Linked DNA regions of Homo sapiens. The protein of the gene in region 2 purifies or fractionates together with the protein of the main gene of each other region. This does not show direct contact. Each region holds a gene or a part of one and is shown on either strand. Other genes may lie near its edges.

Evidence for each region.
Region 1: the proteins of RNASE9 (region 2) and CLYBL purify together in Homo sapiens (affinity purification with mass spectrometry; one large-scale study listed by BioGRID and IntAct). This does not show direct contact.

Annotation. Positions count from the first base shown.
Region 1 is NC_000013.11:99,888,802-99,893,070, reverse strand, and holds the end of CLYBL (citramalyl-CoA lyase, mitochondrial isoform 1 precursor), read right to left. Parts: intron 1,754-4,269; coding exon 1,658-1,753; 3' UTR 1,634-1,657; exon of another isoform or gene 948-1,633; intron 649-947; exon of another isoform or gene 629-648; 3' UTR 501-628; downstream 1-500. UniProt on the Homo sapiens protein: Mitochondrial citramalyl-CoA lyase indirectly involved in the vitamin B12 metabolism. Converts citramalyl-CoA into acetyl-CoA and pyruvate in the C5-dicarboxylate catabolism pathway.
Region 2 is NC_000014.9:20,557,281-20,563,056, forward strand, and holds the start of RNASE9 (inactive ribonuclease-like protein 9), read right to left. Parts: upstream 3,768-5,776; 5' UTR 3,594-3,767; intron 3,092-3,593; exon of another isoform or gene 3,057-3,091; intron 2,354-3,056; 5' UTR 2,302-2,353; intron 1,371-2,301; exon of another isoform or gene 1,336-1,370; coding exon of another isoform or gene 1,335-1,335; exon of another isoform or gene 1,261-1,334; coding exon of another isoform or gene 1,260-1,260; intron 1-1,259. UniProt on the Homo sapiens protein: Does not exhibit any ribonuclease activity.

The DNA of each region.
Region 1 (4,269 bases), on a different chromosome or scaffold from region 2:
ATCTCCATTTAGGAGCTATCTGTCTCCTGGATCCTGTGTTTGAGAAATGAGTTGGTGTCTTCACAGAATGAGGATCCCCAGAGCCATCTTGCCCGGTGCTGGCTCCCCGCATGTCTGTCCCTCTCTGGGTGGGGGTCGCCTGGTGGCGGTGGGACTCTGCGGCCGCGCTTTTGTGTGATGGTGCCTCTCCTGGTGTCTAACCTCAGCTCCTCACCTCTCGGGCTTCCTGTGGGAATTGAGAGAAGTGGGGAAAAGGGGAGGCCTGGTTGGGGCTCATGCTAGGGGCCGCAGAGGAAATAATCCAAAAGGGCGTAGGAGGAGGTGAAAAATGAAAGTAAAAAACAACTGTTTTCTATTTACAAATTTAAATAAACAGAACAGCCTTCCCCGCGGTGTTTGTCTAAGAGTAGCAGCGTTGCTGCTGTGTAGGTCATGAAAAGGTTGGTGTAGAGTTTAAAACTTCCCATTCTGTTAATTTCTTAAGGAACAGTCGTCCAGAGTCTCGGCACAAAAGCTCATGATTTAATGAGGAACAGAAACAAAATCTCTGATTGTTGGTGTTTCAAACTTCATTGGCGTCCTCTGGCAAGCACAAGTTGATCCCTCTGCAGCTTCAATACCCTTTAGCCTTCAATATAAGAGTACATGCTGAATAGGGAACAATGGCTGGTTGTTATGTTTATTTACCCTTACTACAAGCTGGGTTAACCTCTTCAAAACAGCTTTACTAAGCCCGTTAACCACACCACCCATCTGACCTGCAGCCGCATCTCTAATGTGATGCAAATCTCGCAGGGGCCACATGCACCAGCTCGGGTGCATTGTGTCTTCTGAGACGCTACAAGTTTATGACTGAGGGAGTCCTGTCCCAGCCATACATTTCCAGGGGGAAATAGCCTCAATGGCAAACAGTTAAACGGGAAAATAAAGGGGGAGAATGGATGGTCTTGTGTTTCTGCACATTTATTTTTTAATTGCCGGTAATGGTTGACTCACAGCATTCACCCAGGATGACAGCTTTCGTGTTCATCGTCTAGCGGTTCAAGGAGATGGATGTTTCGTTTTAGGGGTGGAGGTTAATAGTAACCAGTTTCGAAAGTTTATTTTCAGAAAGTGTCTTTTTAAGCCAATATAATACTTAGTATTCTTTTTTGATGCCATCTCTGTTGTTTTATCAGATTACTAGTGAAATAGAGATGACCCCTTAATGTTGCTACTATGTTTTAAAGGCCTGGCTTTTCTTAAAATTATTTGTGGTGTCAGCTGTATAAATGAACAAGCAGGAAACATTTACTAACATGAGAAGGGTGGAGGGAATATGTCTATTTGGGAAAGATCCATTTCATTAAAGACCTACCTTCGCCTCACAGCCCATCTTTCCCCAGGATCTTACCTCCCTGTGAAATCATAAGCCCATATTCGTAATACACTAAAAATGATAAAATCATAAGCTTGGATCCAAAGGGAAAAGCGTTCATTTTTTTAGGGGAATAACTGGCCAGTGAGACAACAACAACAAAATTGTGATTAACATGAACTGTAAATGGAGTCAGGTCCCAATCTGGCATCCTAACAAGTTGCTTTGAGTATTGTGGTTTGTCTTTAAGAACCCCACTGTATATGTTCAGCCCACCTGATGACAGCTTCATTTAACAGATCATTTTTCCTTGATGGAGGTGGCAAGCGTAACAGTGTTCTGGGCCTGCTTCAGTAATGGCATGTCGATCATACTCCCTTGGAAAGTAAAGGCCCCCTGGAAAACAGAGAATACAAACTTCCTGAAAGAATACTCGAAATTATAGGTTTCCTTTCTGTGCACACTTGTGCAACAAGAACATTTTAGATTCCACCTGAATTATACTGACTTTCCCGCCCAACTTTTGAGAAAGCCAAAGTAAATTACAGAGGAAACACTTCTTTTTTCCCCCTAAAGAGGGGAAAAAAATAAAAATCTTCAGCATTTTAATGGAGAGGAGAAACACATTGGACACAAGACAGCAAACTGTTCAGTTAACTCTTGAAATCAAGCAGAAAACAGCTGTGGAAGGAAAATCTAAATACTTCCCTATATATTTTTGAAATATTATGTAGAACTTTAAAAGCAAGAATATATTCTGGCAACTGATTATTGTTTTAAAAAATTGTACCATCAGGCTAATGGCAAAATCTTACCTCCTTGCTGTAACATAATTGAGAGGTAACATGATAAGGTTATGAGAAAATGCAAGGTAGGATTGTACAGGGTACAAAGAGATGAGTCTGTTGGTAAACCCATACAGAAGACGATTAGAGTGACCAGGGACGGCCAGGCGCAGTGGCTCACACCTGTAATCCCAGCACTTTGGGAGGCCGGGGCGGGCGGATCACCTGAAGTCAGGAGTTCAAGACCAGCCTGGCCAACACGGTGAAACCCTGTCTCTAATAAAAATACAAAAAAATTAGCTGGGCATAGTGGTGCACGCCTGTACTCCCAGCTACTCGGGAGGCTGAGGCAGAAGAATTGCTTGAACCCAGGAGGTGGAGGTTGCAGTGAGCCAAGGTCACACCACTGCACTCCAGCATGAGTGACAGAGCGGGACTCCATCTCAAAAAAGAAAGAAATACCAGGGACATGAGCTGTAACAAAGGAATCATAGATCTGTTGAATGTTAAGATGGGAAGGCATCTCTGAAATCTCTTGGAATAGTCCCATTTTACAGACTCATTTTTTAAAAAACTTCTACCATACTTATATAGACTGTGTCAAGTAACCTAAGCCCTGTTTTAGATGAGGAAACTGAGGCTCAGAGTAGTAAAAGAAGGAAAAAAAAAGAAGTGATCTTCCAAGGTCATGTGACTAGGGAAAGCCAGAGCTGGGGCTGATGCTTGGGTCTCAGAGCTTCAAGCCTTCATCAGAGATCCCCACATTAAGAAGACAAGGTAGCTTCTTTAAGTGCATCAGCAAAAGATAGATTAAACGGACAGAAAGCAGCATGCTCAGAACCCAAAGTTAATGTCTGGTTATTTGTGTTCTTTTCATCACTTCCTTTTGCTGCTTACGATGATATCCCTTCATCCTAATCCACCCTGCTTCGACCTGTTGGCAAGGATGCTGGTGTGACTGGGTTGCAGGGGTCCTTCGAGATCTGGGGGTGGCTGGGGCAATCCTAATGCACATTGATGATGGTCCATTTGCATCTATTGTAGCCCATTTCTGGATTTCACAAGTACCAATTCCCAACAGTCAATGCTGATGTCACTCAGGGCTGCCGGGACAGGAGTGCTGGGCTCTCATGATGAGGGCTGAGAGGTAGTAACTTACGGTTATACATAGGATGGAGGTAAAGAAAAATGGGGGGAATCCTTAGCAATGACTTTTGGGATTTATCTTTTGATTGAGAGAGATTCTAAGCCTACTAGGATTAGAATTTTTACCAGCAGTGGCCAACCTTTTCAGCCTTAGAAATGATGACTCTTACTCACATGAACACCTGTGTGGCCTAAACCTAAATTCCTGTACTGTAAGTCACTTCCCAGCCCTCTTGTTTTTACTGTTTTTACCCCTAGATTGTCCTTTCCATAATTTCATTCAGCCTCGAGCTAATTTTGGTCACCTCTGTGACCAGGAGGAATTTTCCTAATTTGGTTGGAAGTTCCGAGGTGGTCCTGTAGGTTGGCGTTACGTGGAAATCCGGGCCTGGGTCACATGCTGTTTTACAAGGCAATCGTCTAGTTTTCTTATTGGAGTAAATGATGAAGACCAAAGGCCTCTTGGTTATCCACCCACCAAGTGGGTTATGGCCCTGTAAAACAGCACATCTGTCCTGCTAGGGTTTAAACAATAGGCTGGGGAGACGAAATTAGCATAGATGCACAGGAAATCAAAACGGTGCGCAGAGAATCCAAACGGTGGCTGTGAGTCTGTGCCATGTTCCCGAACCTGCTTTGGGTTCCATGTGCACATCAAAGATAAAAAACACTTCATGTAGTTTTTCAAGACTGGGAGATTATTTCTTCTATGGTCGCAGGTTTTGCTTGATTTTCTTTAATGAAGCTTAAGGTGCAAAACGAAATGTAGCATTTTTCTTGTTTCCTGCATCACTGCAAATGGAGGATGGTAGTGTTATGAATGAGACTGCCTAGCGTGAATATCCCCAGGCTCTCACATAGCCACCTATAATTTAGGTGGTATTTTTTTAACATGTGGGTCTATAGGTGAGATGAAAAATAGTCTATTGGTCAGGATTTAGAAAAATGCAGTTCATCAAAAAGCTACTTGGATTTTTGAGG
Region 2 (5,776 bases):
GCTGTGGTAAGAGAAGAAAAGGTGAAAGGAAGGAGAATGAGAAAGGGAGAGAAATAAAGGTAAGGAGGAAGAAAAGGAAACAAGGAAGAAATGGAGCAAGAGAGAGATTAAGGAGAGAGGGAAGGAGAAAGGAAATCAAGACAGCAGTGGGGAGAAAGGGAGGGTGCAGAGAGGAGGCTCACATGCTCCTTTCGTCTGAAATAAATGCATCTTTTCCCTTTCCAGGAGTTGAGAACTTGCTCTGAAAAGAGCCACCCTCCCCTTTCGAACATTCCACTTTGATAAGAAAAATTCCTTAACCATGTCTTTCTTTCTCCTCTTGCCCTTATTTGACCATAGATGCCCTTGGGGAAGGGGTCAAGGAAGGTTCAAGTTTGAGCAGCTGGGATAAATACATTCTTGAAGTCACCCTAAAGTAAAAACAATGATACACAGTCATAGCTAGCATAATGAGGAGTTAAGTGCCAAGCACTAGACTAAGCACTCTAAGTACATTATCACCATCATCCAAACAACCCTATAATAAATATATTATTTTTAGCATTGTTGTTATTATAACAATGAAAGTTGCAAAAAGAAGTGTAAAGTTATTAACATCTCTCCGTGAAGGGAAGTTGCTTAAAATCTCACATTAGATCCGGCAGACTCCTGGTTCAAGCCTATTTTTGTCTAAATTCCACACATCTGTCCTTAGCTGCTATTCTATGGCCTCTATCAGTCTGGTTTCCCTTCTTAAGGCTAGACTGTATCTCTCTCTCTAGGCTGTCAAACACAATGACTACTGAAATGGCCAGTGCTAAAACGGAATTTGAGCCCCTAGAGTGCTTTGACAAATTGGTCCATGCTCCATGAAGAACCAATTATTTAATTGCAGAAGCAACCTCCTGAGTTTTCTTACCTTACCAGGCTCGTTGTAAAAGAAGTCCTACTTGGTGGCAACCTGAGTGATTCTCTAACAGTCATTACCTGGAGACCTTGATCTATCAGTGATGGAGATGGACAGCCTCCTGTTCTAGGCTGGATACTAAGTTTGTATATATGTGTGTAGAAAGGTTAGAGAATGATGGAATTAAAGAAAGGTGGGTGTTGGGGAACACATCAGAAAGTAGAGACAGGAAAGTTGAGCATAGGAGTGCAGAGAATGGGAAAGAAAAGAAAAAGTTGCCTAAAATGGCGATGTGAGAATGGGCACTCTGGGGCGGCCATGTGCCACACTGTCCCTCCCCTCCCTGCTTTTCCTCCCATCCCTGCTTTCACACTGTCATCAGTGTCCTCCAGGAAGTCTCTTCAAAAGAGTGATCCCATGGTGACAGGTCAGAGAGCTCGGAACATACTCTCACAAGAACGCGGAGCCTCTGCAACATCTTGATCTGGAGAGAACATGGACAGTACACGTGTGAAAAGCAGAATTCAGGCAGCTGTGGCCCTGCCCTTTCTACTTCCCGAGAACATGCACAGGGCCTGTCCAGAATACTCTTTTGTTTTTTAAATCTGCAACCTTCTTAATTCTTGATTTATGAATTCAACTTTTGGTTTCATTCTTCTCAAAATCCTTTCTCATCTCAAAGTATGTGAATTTTTTAAATACTGTATTTTGTTACTTTTATAGATTTTTAGAAATCTTTCACCATCTGGAATTTATTTTAATAGATAGTAAGAAGTTAGTGTGGTCTTTTTTCACATGGTTTATACATAATCTCATCATCAATTATTTGGGAAAAAATCTATTCTCTCATCCCTAATTTTAAAAGCTAGTTTCTATATTTAATAATTCTGTTTCTGAACAGTTTATTGTGTTTTGATATGCCAATAATATACTGTTTTACTTATTATCATTTTACTGTTTTTTTTTTTAAGAGTCATGGTCTCACAGTGTTGCCTCGGCTGACTCAGAACTCCGGGGTTCAAGGAATCCTCCCACGGCCTATCAAGTAGCTGGGCCTACAGGTGCACTACACTGTACCTGTACTTATTATCATTTTATAAAACATTTTGATATCTCATAAAGCAATCTACACTCATTCCTCTTCTTATTCAAATGTTCACTGCGGAGACAAACACAAAGTAGATTATAGGGTGCCCGGGACAGGTGGTAGAAATGGGGATTAACAGTAAATGGAAGAAAGAGAGACAGAGGAGAGAGAGACAGAGAGAAAGAGAGACAGAGAGAGAGAGAGACAGGGAAGCAGTGAGGGAGGGAGGGAGGGAGAACACAGAATAAATAGTGTTGAAACATGATCACTCAGTGTTTCTGAAGTTTTTGCCTGGTAATCTCACACAGCAGAAACGCCTCTGGCCTACCTGTGGAATGCAGGCTTCTTGGTTTTTCCTCAGTTCTCACTAATTGAAATTTCTGTGGATGAATCCAGAAATTTGCATTTTAAACAAATTTAAAGGTGATTCTTAGCTCACTAAAGTTGAACAAGGAATTTCTTAATATGCATTAAAATGAACTTGTGAAAAAGAAAACATCCTAAAACAGTAGGGAAAACGTTTGGCCCTTTCAGCAAATGTTCTTGGAAGAAGAATGGGATGAATTGCTTCCTCCTTTTGGCTATTGTGAATCATGTTGCTATGAACATGGGTGCACAAATACCTGTTCAAGTCCCTGCTTTTCTTCCCTGCTTTTAAACTTGCTTGGAAGGTTTATTGTAACTTAGAATTGCAGACTGAGAAAGGCCTTGGAGGGGTTGTCTATCTAGTCTCTCCTCCTAAAATGCAAGTTCTGAGCCCCAGATCAGAACTCTATATTTAACCACACACATAAGAAGTTTATAGTAAAAAGAAAAGATTGGAATGAGTTATGGGCTTGTAGGTGAACCAATATGTTTCAGAAGGATTATTAAGTGGTATTTTAAATTTTTAAATTTAAGTTTAAGATTAAAATTTAAATTTAAAACTGATTTAAATTAAATTAATTTTTAAAAAGATTTGTTTGAACACCTTATATAATAAAGCATCAATAAATCATGATCATATAATAATTATATAGCCTCAATCACAGAAGGAAAAACTAAATTAAATCTTTTAAATTGGCAATAATTATAATAACTTACAAACTCAATGCTGATAAGAGTGTGATGAGATGTTTCTGCAGAAAGAAATTGTTATAATTTTTTTGAAAAATTTGAGAAATACAATAAAAAGAATAGCTGATACTTTTCTCTAGCATTTCAATAGCTAGAATTCTAAGTTGCAATAATTTATATTGAAAGACAAACAGCAAATTTTACTTAAAAGGGAAAAAAATTGAAATTTTAAAATATAAATATCCAAAAATGTGGGAAAGGGAAAGGTTAAAATGAGTCTGATGTGTTTATAGAAATGACAATACACATTGCAATAATAATTATTATTATAAGAGCTAATATTTATTGAGACAGTATTTTATATTCATAGAATTGTATATTCTTAGAATGGGCTATTTTTCAGAATTTACAAATATATTAATCAATAAAGTTTTAGATCATCTGAGAAACAAGGAGAATAGAAAAAAAGCATTAAAAACTTTAGAGATATGAAATATTTTGTGATATAATATTATAGTACTAGGACTCTCTGGTTGACAGTGAGAAAAATTCCAAACAAATTACCTTAAATGCAAGAGGCACTATGTTGACTCACAGAAGTTGGAAGTCCAAGAGGTAGAGCAGGAGAAAGAAATCAAATTCTTGACTAGACTCTTGTTTTTACTCTCTCCCACTCTACTCTCCTTTGTACACTAACTTTATTCTCATGTAGGGGCCTCTCCATGTAATGACAGAGTCAATCACTGCCCCCTTTGTAGCCTTATATTTAGGATCACAGTAGGAAGTGCCATTCTCTGCCACCTTCACTCAACATGGAAAATAACTTTTCTGATTGGCTGTGCTTCTGTCACATGAATAAATCCAGGGATGTGGGGCACTCTGATTGGCTACCTGAAACACATGTCCTCTTTGAGAAGTAAAGGCAAAACTACACAATTAAAACCCAACAGAATTCCAATTGTCGATAGAAGGGCTGTTCCCTATTACACAAAAAAGGAATGGAGACCAAATCCGAAAGTAATAAACGTGCTTTGCTGTTTAGCTGGGGGAAAATCAAAACACTCCATCTACAGCATGTTCCCAATTAACAGAAATATAGATTACAAGGGAAAGAAAAGAAAAAATGTAATAATAATAAGTTGTTATTTCTGAATGATATATTTCTGGTTAATTTTTTATTCTAATCTTTAAAATTGTCAATTTTACAAATTCAAAAAAATAACAAAATATCATTGAAGAAGTCAAGTTTTAAGATCTGGATTGGCCATGTTCTTAAATATTAAGTGATAATTTTCCAGACTCCCACATGTTTATATCAGTAAACTCATTTTTCATCAGCATCAGGAAAATCTGTGCCTTAGTTTGAGTGGTTGAGAAAAGACAGATTATAAATCTTCAATCCTCAGAATTAGACTAACCTTTGTGAATAAATCCCAGGGTATCTCTTAGTTAAATCCAGTAGAAAAATATAGGTTTTAACCAGCTTTAAATTAAATTTTCACAAACATTTTGAGGCAATATTTATGTCTCAAACCTTTACACCCATGATTGAACTGAGAATGGTATCAGGATGGGAAAATCTGGAGGAAAAATGTTATCCTTGTGAGTAAATAAGAGAATCAACAAGTTCACTGGTATATCACACCTTTGGCCCAATTCAAGACGTTTCCTCCCTTAGGGCCACTGTAAAAACTTGAGTGTCAGAGCTTAAAGCAGCACACAGACTAGACATACAGAAAACAAGTGTTTCTAAATAATTGAAAATCAACCTTCGGAGCATAAATAGAGTAATTTTCATATCTGATTTTACAAAAATGAAGTCAAACCAGGTCTGGGTTCACAGAAATCTCTTCAGAACTGACCGCACGTTTTTGCAAATTTATTTTACTCATATCTTATTTAGCTTTTTAAATGTACAATTCTGCAAAATTTTAAAAGGACTTAGGTAGATATTTACTATTTTTCATGTAATGCTAGTGTGAGTCTAGAAGGTATAGACTGAGATGTGGCCTCTGGTTTTGTTTGATTTCCTAAGTTGGTATTTCTCAGGGATCAGAAATAGCAAGAAAATTGAAATATGGAATATATGAGGATTGGCTCTCTCCTAGATTTGACACTGGAAAAGGAAGTAAACCTGGTGAAACAGTAGGTTCTATATTAAGAAAAAAATAACATACATCCCAGTTTTCATGTCATGCACACACATACACACACAGTCTACAATTTATGATGAACTAGAAATCAAAGTAATATTTTAAAAACAATATTAAGGATATTGAATTAAAATATGCAGAATATTTTTCACAGTTTTTGAGTAAATAAAAGATGTTCTTATTAAAAAAAGACAAAAGCACCATCACAAAGAAAATTACTGAAAGACTTGATTACACACACATAAACTGAATCGCATACTATATACATGAGTGCACAGAAAATTTCACCATAAACAAAAAGCAAAATAAGAATCTCTAAATACACCAAATATAAGATTCAAAGACCATAAACAGCTTAAAAAACACTTTCTAAACATGTGCAGTGTGAATGAGCTTCTCAAACTCAGGTGTAAATAAAATGTTAATTTCTTCTCTAAATCCAACATATCTGTACCAAAACCCCAACTATTGAAGGTGGCAGCAAAATGTAGTTCAGTTATTATTCTAGGTGTCTTCCACCATTCTTACAGAATCAGAGAAACCCAGGAATCTGAAGTTATCCTAGCACAAAAAGTTCAGTACTTTATATGTGAG